2 separate regions of the Homo sapiens genome follow, and region 1 is linked to region 2. The links come from fine-mapping of genetic effects on gene expression. A gene starts in region 2. The other region holds a variant in brackets. All regions are shown on one strand. Distances are between the middles of the regions.

Region 1 (5,364 bases), 870 kb after region 2:
GAGGCCTCCTTGGCCTCCTCCTCCCTCTTCCCTGCGCTTCCCCGAATCCGCCCCCAACCCGTGAGCTTTGCCCTCCAGCCTTTGGCTCAGTGTCTGTTTTTGAGGAAACATAAACTAAGATAACAGCCTTGTGATTTCAGGGCTCCCTGTGACCGCAGCAGGGCCTGGGTTATCCGGGCGGATGCAGCTGTCCACAGACAGGCCTGAGGCTGGGCAGGGGGTAGGGGGCTGTGGCCTGCGTGTGCCTCTGTTCCCATTCCCGTCCCCTTCTTCCTTGAGGAGCACACGCCTTCTCCACTGTCACATTCCTCCTGCATCAGGAGCCCCCTGGAACCCGCGGCTTCGGGTCTGGTGCACCCTGTGGGGCCTCATGCCACTTGGTGTCACGTACTCAAGAGTTTATTTTCCCACAGAAATTTAGGAGAAAGTAGGGATTGTTTGTAGTCAAAGGAAGAAGTGTTCCTCAGTGGATGGAGAAGGCCTGGCTGTGCTCCAAGGCCCTGGGCCCTGCATACTCATCTCCTGGGGCTTCCTGAAGCTCCCTGTGGAGCGTGAGCCTGCCGGGCCACCTGGAGCACAGGGGGCCTCCAGGGACAGTGGGGGCACTGCGGGCCGGGCCCACGAGTGGGCTCCTTCACCTGGGCCTCCCCCAGGGCTGACAGCCCCTTGGATCCCAGGGAAATGCGTCCCAACCACAGAATGAGGTGCTGCTGGGGTACCTCCTTCCTCGAGCAGGACAGCCAGTCATGGTGCCCCTCTCTGAGTGGCATGGGCATCCAGGTAGAAGAGTGCCAGGACATGCCTGGGCAGCACCCTCTGGGATGCCACGGGCTCTATCCCCAGCTGCCCGCTGTGCCTCATTCTGGGGTTGATGGGTGCCAGGGCTCCCGCATGCTGGACCAGCAGGGCACCCTGCAAGGTGGTGCCGCCTTGAGGCAGTGCCAGGAGGTGACGGCTCGCCCACACAGGCTCCCGAACATCAGGGATACGCAGTAAAGACAACCTCATTCTAATGTTCTGTCTGTTTGGATAGGGACAAACACAGCCCAGATCTCAGCCCCCCGGCAGACACCAGACACCGCAATGATTTGCTCCAGCAAGCCAACTGTCCCGGAGCGGTAGCTGCTGGAGTCCTGATCCAACTCCACTATTGTCATTCCTATACCCAGGTGTGGGCGATCTGTGCTGTTAGACCTGGGGGGCTGCAATGGGTGGGACGGAAGCCTCTGGACCCCCAGTCCCTGGTGTAGAATGGTTCCTGGGAGTCTGGAAGAGGTGCCATTTCTCACGCGCCTGTCGGGGATGGACTGACAGCTGCAGGACCCACCTCGCCGCTTCTAGCTGTGGGTCCATGCAGCCAACACAGAGGTTTGTGGTCACTGAGGACATTCGTGCAGACACTTTGTCCAGTGCCCGAGGGGACAGCTGCAGGCCAGCTGTAGAGTCCATGCAAGTTCTGCCCTGAGCGGTTTGCATTGAAATCCAGGCAGTCGTCTGCTCTCCACACACTTCCACTCTGACTGGGAGGGGGCCGCAGTGTCCTTCAACCCCATGGGTCAGCGTCCACAGGCCCTGGATGATTTAGGCAGAGTTATACCAGTAAAAGACCACAGCTGTCTGGGGAAGCCAGGAGCATGCCTGGCACCCACTCAGATGCTGCCCTGGCAGCAGCCTTGTTCAGGGTCCCAGTCTCCTGCACATCCGGGACGCTGAGCAGGGCTGGCTGTCAAGTGGGGCTGGCTGCCGTGCTCACCTGCCTTCTGCTGCTGGGGGCCGGGGGACTGTGCTTCTTCGCCTTTAGTGGTGGAAGGAAAATACTCATGTAACAAAAACTATACACATGAAGTGTTTTCCCCCAAAGAAACAAGGGTGCTAGCCGGAAAGATGATCAGCTGCCAGAAAACCAAATAAAATAGCAAACCTTCTCTATAGGTGCCCAAGATGCCCTTGACAAAACTCCAAAGCCACTCATGGCAAAACCCAAAGCCAAAGAGAGATGGGAGGAAACTGCTCAAACATGAGGAATCGTGCTTCTCAGGAGCCAGTGGTGAACACGACCTTAACATATGAAATGCAAACCACTGTCATTCGAATGAGAACTAACGTGGTCCCCGTCACCCCCATCATTTATTTTGGTTCTAGCCACCGCAGGAGGATCACAGAATAACACAGGCCATGTAGGGAAATTGCAGCCTGGCCGGGCATGGTGGCTCACATATGGAATCCCAGCACTTTGGGAGGTTGAGGTGGGCAGATCACCTGAAGTCAGGAGTTAGAGACCAGCCTGGCCAACATGGTGAAACCCCATCTCTATCAGAAACACAAAATTATCTGGCCATGGTGGCAATTGTCTGTAGTCCCAACTGCTTGGGAGGCTGAGGCAGGAGAATCACTTGAACCCGGGAGGAGGAGGTTGCAGTGAGCCGAGATGGTGCCACTGCACTCCAGCCTGGGTGACAGAGCGAGACTCCATCTCAAAAAAAAAAAAAAAAAGAAAAGAAGGAAAGAAAGAAAGAAAGAAAAAAGAAAGGAAAGAAAGGAAGAAAATTGCAGCCTGCCTGAGTGGGGTGTCCTGCTGGTGAGGTGAGTGCTGCTGGGGTCTGGGCTTGTTGCTGACATATGCCTTGAGAAAGGTTTGAATAGGGCCGGGAACAGTGGCTCACACCTGTAATCCCAGCGCTTGAGAGGCTGAGGCAGGCAAATCACTTGAGATCAGGAGTTCAAGACCAGCCTGGCCAATATAGTGAAACTCCGTTTCTACTAAAGACCCCCCCCAAAAAAAACAAAAAAAAAACAAAAACAAAATTAGCCGGGTGTGATGGCTCATGCCTGTACTCCCAGCTTCTTGGGAGGCTGAGGCAGGAGAATCGCTTGAACCCAGGAGATGGAGGTTGCAGTGAGCCGAGATTGCACCACTGTAATCCAGCCTGGGCGACAGAGCGAGACTCCATCTCAAAACAAAACAGAAAGGTTTGAATGTTCCTCAGCCACTTGAGTGGCCCGGTCTGCCCAAGTATGAGAGATTTCCAGGGATGCAGGGCTTTCAATGCTAAGAATCATTTTAAAAAGGCAGTCTCCGGGAGTGAGTGGGTCGCCCTAGCGGCTGTGACTGGTGG[C/T]GCCCTTCCCCGCCCCTCACCAGCCCTGAAGAAACTGCCCCTCATTTTTGTTTTTCTTTGCATTTGTGTGATGGCTGCTAACTTTCTTGCATGCACATTGGCCATGAGTGTTTCCTGTAAGATATAAGTTTCCTGTGTGTATTATTTGCCCATATTTCTTTTCTTTTTTTTGAGACGGAGTCTCACTGTGTTGCCCAGGCTAGAGTGCGGTGGTGCCATCTCGGCTCACTGCAGCCTCCACCTCCCGGGTTCAAGCAATTCTCCTGTCCCAGCCTCCGAAGTAGCTGGGATTACAGGCGCCCGCCACCATGCCTGGCTAATTTTTGCATTTTTAGTGGAGACAAGAGTTCATCATGTTGGCCAGGCTGGTCTCGAACTCCCGACCTCGTGATCCACCCACCTCGGCCTCCCAAAGTGCTGGGATTCCAGGCATCAGTCACGGCACCCAGCCCATATTTCTACAAAGATTTTGTCTTCATCTTTTAAGTTCAGAATGTAAATACCCTGTGGCTCTTCCATCTTGTTTTGGGCCTTAGTCTGAATTGCGCCCTGTCACCACAAGGTGCATGAACAAGGGCACTGGCACTGCCTTCAGTGTCACAGAAACAACAAAACGATGCCAAACACACGACGTGAAATGCTGAGATCTCCATCAACAGGTGACCGCCGAATTCACGACGATCCAACGTAACCGTGGAAGCTGATGGAAAAAAGGAGGTGCATATACATATTGATGTTACAACCGTCCCATGTTAGGCTGGGCGCGGTGGCTCAAGCCTGTAATCCCAGCACTTTGGGAGGCCGAGGTGGGCGGATCACGAGGTCAGGAGATCGAGACCATCCTGGCTAATACGGTGAAACCCCGTCTCTACTAAAAATCCAAAAAATTAGCCAGGTGTGGTGGCGGGCACCTGTAGTCCCAGCTACTCGGGAGGCTGAGGCAGGAGAATGGCGTGAACCCGGGAGGCGGAGGTTGCAGTGAGCTGAGATCGTGCCACTGCACTCCAGCCTGGGTGACAGAGCAAGACTCCGCCTCAAAAAAAAAAGAAAAAAAAATAAGAAAGAAATCTGCAGGTTTATGAGCATGAGCACAGACAGTGGGTGAAACAGACACTAAGAGGTGTTCACACTGACAGCGGAAGGATCAGGACGAGAAGGGGTTGGGGGAAGTTTTTCGCTTTTAATTTTTGTACCCCCTATTGTTTACCCAGTAAGAATGGTCGGGTATTCCTTTTATAATTAAAGGAAGTAATCCATTGAAGAAAATAAAATAAATAAAGTTGAAAAAGATGCATGCCTATTGTGGGCCTTTCTTTTAGGTAAAAATAATGTCTAGAAAAATGAAAACCAAAATTTCTAACCATACTTTTTTTAAAGAAAGAAGTTGGTAAAGATAAAAACATAAATTAGGCCAGACTCGGTGGCTCACACCTGTAATCCCAGCACTTTGGGAGGCCGAGGTGTGTGGATCACAAGGTTGGGAGATTGAGACCATCCTGGAGAACACAGTGAAACGCTGTCTCTACTAAAAATACAAAAAATTAGCCGGGCGTGGTGGCGGGCGCCTGTATTCCCAGCAACTCAGGAGGCTGAAGCAGGAGGATGGTGTGAACCCGGGAGGTGGAGCTTGCAGTGAGCCGAGATCGCGCCACTGCACTCCAGCCTGGGCGACAGAGCGAGACTCCGTCTCAAAAACAACAACAACCACAAAAACCCAAAAAACATAAATTAAAGAAATAGAAAAGAAGAGCTGAGCATTTCACAAACGGAGAGCAGGTGTCTGGTGTTTGGTGTGTTCCGGTCGAGTGTAGTCAGGAAAAGGAAGCCGCGTTGTCTGCGGGGCGGGGGCCTGTGCTTGTGGCTGCAGCAGCCCCTTCCCATCAGATAAGGACATTGTTCATGCGCGGACTGGCACCCAGGACAAAAACAACACCCACAAAACCTGGTAGCCCCACTTAATGTTCCCCTGCCGCGGCGGCTGGAGGATGGAATTACCAGAAGCAATTAGACAAAGGAGGTTCAGAACCACAGGCATGGAATTAACTAACTTTATTTAAGATGACATGTGGAGAGACTGGAAGGACACCTTCGCTCTGTCTGGGAAGCCGTGAGGCTGAGGGGGCTGTCCCCCGCCCGGGTCCCGTGGGGAGCCCATCTTCTACCAACCCATCCCAGGTTCAGCAGGGTCTCTTGCTTTTGTTCGGAGCGCAGCAGGAGGCCACTGAGGTGCCCACAAAGGGGAGAGATG
Region 2 (5,364 bases):
GGGGTGTGGGCGTGACACATGCGACCCTGCGTCTCCCAGCCACATGCAGATGAGGATGCAAGAGCAGCCTTCAGACGACAGAGTTTATTTCAGACTCAGCCTCCACTCAGGCCCGGGGTTCCTGTGGCCACTGGCCAGTGAGGGCAGGCCACGTTCTCACAGTGCCCACCACCACCTTCTGGGAGTTCGCCTGCTGCTGCGCGCCAAGGGCCACGCTGGGACTGGATGTGCTAAGGAGGGGCTGCACGAGGGGCTTCCCCAGGTGCAGTGGGCTGAGGACAGTGTGTGACGGTCGCCGCCAAAAGCAGTTCTACTCTACCTGTTATTGCATTATACGCTGGTTAGACTCAGGTGGTGCTGGGTGCAAGCTGGAGGGGCAGTCTAGCGGGGCAGGGCGGGCACAGCTGTGAGGGGCCCTCGACATCCCTGCCTCCCCGCCGGCGTCGGGGCTCCCCTGGAGCACAAGCTGGGGAAGGCGACCCTTGGGCAGCACCCCCTCCACACGCAGGCTTCAGGGCTCCGTCTTCCCACCCAGCTAGGCTTGGGTGGTGTGGGGAGGTGGCATTGAGGCTCTGCTGAGGTGAGTGCCCACCCCAGGTCCGTCCCACTGCATTCGCCCAGGCAGACCCCCGGGGGGTACGCAAAGAGCAGAAATGGGGCGAGTGGAGCCACCGCGCCCTTTAATGTCCCCACGAGGGCCGGGCCCAGGCCCAACCCATCCCGGCACCCCCACCTGCACTCAGACCAGCCCTGGGGGCCCAGGATCACCCAGCCGCCAGGGGTGGGGGGGGCCACACACAGGGTCCATTCCTTTCTTGCCGTTCCCCAGCTGTGCCCTCGCCCCACATCCTGTGCTGTGGACCCCGGAGCCTGGGCTCTTTCTGCCCTGGAGGTTGGGGAAGTCCTGGGTCAGCAGGGGTGGGCTCGGGCGTCCTCTTCACCGTGCGCGTGTGTTGGGGGCGTATGTAGGTGTGTAATGAATGTGCGTGTGTACGAATAGGTAAGGGTGAACTCTGCATGCACTGGCTTCCTCGGGTCTGTACAGGAAGTGGCTCCGTGCCCCCCGCCTGGCCCCCAGGTATTATTTTTTCCGGACCAGGAAGGCCACACCGAGAATCAGGGCTATGGCTGCCACGGCCACACCCCCAGCCACCAGCAGGGGGTTGAAGTTCTCACAGGACCAGGGACCTCGGCCCCCAGGCCCCCCACTGGCAGCCTCATCTTCCTCCGCCCCGTCCCCAGGACCCTTGGGCTCCGGGGTTGCATCGGGACTGCTGGGGACCGTGGGGGCTGGCTTCAGGTTGCTGTGGTTGTTGAGAAGGGCAGGGTCGGCCTTGGCCGAGGTCTTCTTGGCAGGTGCCGTGGTGGGGGCTGCTGGCGGCTGCTGCTTCTCGGCCGGGGCCTCCTTCTTCGAGGGCTTGGTCAAGGGGGCTTTCCCATCGGCTGCCGGGGGTACCTTGGCCTCGGTGGTGACCTGGGGCACCTTGGTGTCGGGCTTGGGGCTGCTGGCTGACTTCCCTCTGGACTCCATGGTGGGCGGGGCGTATGGGACAGGCAGGTGGCTGCACCAGAGGGGCTCAGGACAGTTTGTCGCCCCTGGGCATTCTATGGGCCTGGAGGGAGACACAAGGGAGGCTGCGCGCGGGTCCAGTCCCCCCTGTGCTGCCCCGACCACCTGGTCCCCAGGCAGCCCCTGCCCAGTTCTCTGGACTCTCTGGAGCCCCAGCTCAGGGGCCTCCCGTGGGCCTCTGACACTTCTCTTTCACGGCCTGGACTCCATCTGTCCATGACCACTCCTCAAGGGGCCCCTCCAGCCGCAGAGGCAAGGGCCACGCACAGGTGGGAGGAGGTAGGGGACCCCACTGTGCTCCATAAAATGGCCCATGCAAATGCCACATCCTCCCACCAGCCGGGGGCAGGAGGCTCTTGGTGGGGAAGTAAGGATCAGGCCCAGAGAACTCGAAGGAAGAGCATTCTCCCCTCCAAGGAGGTGATCGGAGCCCCAGTGGGAGAGCTGACTGCATCCCCTCCTCAGGAGAGCATTCCTGCTTTGCAGAGATGGACACTAAAGCACGGAGGCTGTGACCTGGCCAGGGTCCCAGGGGGAGGAGGGCGGGGAGGGGCAGGAGCTGGGATCTCAGGCAGCCATCAGGGTGGGTGGGCCCACAAGAACCCAGACTTGAGAAAACTGGGGTGTCTCTCCAGGAAGTCAGCGTGGGGCTGTGCTTCCAAGGGCCGTCTGCCCCTCCCCAGCCTCTGGGGCCCCCTCCTCAGCATGGGCCGTGCCTGCCTCCAGCCCTGGAGCAGGGAGTCCTCGCCCAGCCCAAGGCTGTGCTGTCTCTGTGGGCAGAGGGTTCCTGGCGTTAAACAGGGTGGGCACATGCTGCACTTGGCCCGCGGGTCAGGGCGGAGGACAGGGTTCTGGGCTGTGGGAAAGGCGGTGCCCAGATTCTCAATGACCGAGGCAGAGGTGGGAAGGGCCCTGGGGGCCCAGCCGCCCTGAACCTGAGTGGGTCTTGCCCCAAAGCCCCAGAGGCCGCCTGTCTGCCTCTCCCAGGGAAGGATGAGAAATGCCCTCCAGACCTGCAGAGAAAGGGAGGCACGTTCCCCACCCCCCGCCAGGTGCATTGACCACACTGAAGGTCACCCGAAGGTCACAGCATGATGAGGGCGTCTCCAGAAGAGGCCCAGCTGCTGCCACCTCCCAGGGAAGCCCAGCCGTCCCTTCACCCCTGCAGTTCTCGGGGGGCTCAGCTGCTGGGCATCAAGTTTGCAAAGAGCAGGTGGTCTGCCCCCCCAACCTCGCTATTTGTGGCACTTACATCCCGGCCGCCGCCTCCCTCTCCCGGGATCAACTGAGCCCTGGAGAACTGGGGGGCCCGCGCGCAAACCCAGTGACCTTCAAGGCCCGGAGCCGCCTCCTCGCCCCGCAGGACGCCGCGCCCGCCCCGCCCGCCCCGCCCGCCGGGAGCCCCCCGCCTTACGCGTCCTCCGGCCTCCCCGGGGCTGCGCGCTCCTCCGCGGGATGACGGCGGCTGCGAACGCGGAGGAGAGCTCGGGAGTTTCCCACAATGCACTGCTCCCGGCGCAGGAGGGCGGGGAGGGGGAGGGGCGACCGGGCCCCGCCCCGCCGGGAACCGTGGGATCCGCAAACCCAGCTCCGCCTTAGATCCAGGGGTAGAAACTTAGGGTCCGAGAGAGCAACTGCGGGGTCCAAGTCCCATCTGGGACTGCCAGAGGCAGGAGGCGGGTCCCGCTCAGCATCCCCTCTAGGCCAGGGTGCCCCTTGGTCGGTGGGTGACGGGTCGGTGGGTGAGGGGTCGGTGGGTGGGTGCGCAGGCCTAGCCCTGCAGTCTGAAGGGAGCCAGTTATGGGAAGAGGGGACTGCCCTCCCCCGCCCCCAAACAGACCCCCAGACAGACAGCAGCATCTACTTAGAATATTTATTTATTCTCTGACATGACAAGACACAAAAAGTTACAACTTCTTAAAACTCTTCAAAAGAAAAAAATATAATTCTGTAAGCAGCAGCAGCAGCTTCCAAGGTTCTGATGTGACGGGAGGGGCAGCTCCCAGGAGCAACCGTGAACTGGGGGGGTCCAGGCCTGAGCCCCAGGTAGTGTCGCTGGGAAGGGGCCTCTGTGGAGGGCCCCGGTTTTGGGGACACAGCACCAGCACATCAGGGTCTGTCACCAACACGATCACATGGCCAGGGCGGGGCAGGGAGAGCTTCGGCTCACAGCAGGGATCGCCCGGTGGCAGGGGGGATGGGGCTTCTGAAGTGTGGTCAGGGGCCTTATGCCCGGAGGCGGGAAGGATGGGGCTTCTGCAGTGTACCCAGGGGCCTTATGCAGAGGCTGAAAAAGGAGGGTGGGCCCTGAGAGGACTTGGGGGTGTGGCAGCTCCTGGCCCTCCCTCCAGAGCAGGGCAGGCACCCTCAGGCTCCACACTGGTCCCAATGCCCGCCCTGCTCCCTGGCCAATCCCAGGCCAGGGTGGAGGACTCAGGAGAGACCAAGCTGGGTAAGTTAGTTCCTGGACGGGGTCAACAGAGCCTGGGGCACACACAGCACACAGAGCGCCTGGCCACGGCGGGAAGGGGGGCAGTCCCCAGCAGCCCCATCCCCAAGGGCCAGGCCAGATCCCCACAACACACACACGCATGCACACACACATACACACACACATGCACACAGACCTCACAATCTGGGCCCCAGCCTGGGGTGGGAGCTGAGGAGCCCACCAGAAAGTCCCACAGTGGGTGGCGGGCTTGCCCCAAGAGTCAGACCTCAGGGCAACCCCTCACTTGGGATTCCTGGCTCAACAGAGAGGGCAGGAGACCCCAGTCCTCTTGCAAGGCTGGCCAGGGAGGCAGAGTCAAGTCCTGCCAAGGCGACAAGAGCGGCTGGGGAAGGACGGAAGGGCTGGAGAGCCGCTTGGGTCCAGCAGATTCAATAAATAGGTTTGTGTGGGGTGCCTGTGTGGGCCAGGATGGCTGTGGAGACTGGAGCTGGTGGACTGGGGGTATGGTCCAGCCTGCCCGGCCCAGGCCCGGGGGCCCCCAGCCCAGAGACCAGCTCTGTCCCTGGGGGTGTTCAGGCCAGGGCAGGATTGGGGCAGGGGCTAGCTTGAGGAATGTAAAGATTTCTGCATTTTCTACATAAATGAGACATTGATCCCAACGGTGCAGGCAGCACCCCGGGGGGCTTGCGTGTGCACCACCTATGTGGACCCTGCACCCTGCCCCCTGCTGCCCCTGCCGACGGGAGGGCTGGGGAGGGGTCTTCCCTTGCTCCGTCCTGGGCTAGCTGCCTGGCTCCAGCCCCACACCGGCCCTGCCCAGCTGGCTGGGGTGGAGCGGGTGCTGGGCTCAGGCCTGGGGGTCCTGCAGCAGCCCCAGCAGGGACTCCGCGATGCCCAGGAAGTAGACCACCTGTGCGATGCCGAAAAGGGGCGCGATGACCAGCGCGCGGCAGTAGGCGCCCTTCAGGAAGGCCGAGGGGCCCTCGTGCCGCAGGATCTTCCTGTGGAGGAAGGACGAAAGGGTCAGCCCGGTACGCAGGCCCCCAGGCCCCACCCGCCGTGGGACCTCCCCACCTGGCACAGTCCAGGATCCCAGAGTAGGTGTCCTCGTTGACGCCTCGCTGAAGTGACTGGAGCCGCGTCTTCACCACTGCAAGGGGCGCTCGGGTCAGTGTGAGCCTGGCCAAGGGCTCAGTCCCGCCCCATCCCCAGCCGGGCGCCATCCCATGCACTGACCATCACAGGGGTTGACGGCCACAGCGGCGGCACTCCCAGCCACACAGCCGGCCAGGAAGGACACGTAGAAAGGCGACTTCTCCTCGGACGCCGGGCGGCCCAGCTG

Direction of the effects. Alleles are on the strand shown, and positions count from the first base shown. SD is a standard deviation of normalised expression in the study named.
With allele T in place of C in region 1, the expression in CD4 T cells of the gene that starts at base 3,045 in region 2 is lower (moderate effect, 0.46 SD a copy in Kasela 2017).

Evidence for each region. PIP is the estimated chance that this variant, and not a neighbour inherited with it, causes the effect.
Region 1: its variant is the best candidate, but not a certain one, in a credible set for the expression of CEND1 in CD4 T cells (Kasela 2017, PIP 0.65).

The regions. Positions count from the first base shown.
Region 1 is chr11:1,654,679-1,660,042 of GRCh38, forward strand. It overlaps LOC124902609 (a long non-coding RNA gene), which reads right to left. Exons shown (of 2, transcript XR_007062547.1): 2 at 5,151-5,364. Among named protein-coding and RNA genes, the nearest start is that of FAM99A, 8.2 kb to the right of the region's middle. RefSeq lists an enhancer at 135-739. The variant C/T (reference allele first, on the strand shown) is at 3,117.
Region 2 is chr11:787,046-792,409 of GRCh38, forward strand. It overlaps CEND1 (cell cycle exit and neuronal differentiation 1), which reads right to left and starts at 3,045. Exons shown (of 2, transcript NM_016564.4): 1 at 2,985-3,045; 2 at 70-1,613. The coding sequence starts at 1,531. The coding sequence ends at 1,082. It overlaps SLC25A22 (solute carrier family 25 member 22), which reads right to left. Exons shown (of 10, transcript NM_001191061.2): 8 at 5,259-5,364; 9 at 5,097-5,172; 10 at 3,430-5,023. The coding sequence ends at 4,870. RefSeq lists a silencer at 2,956-3,185.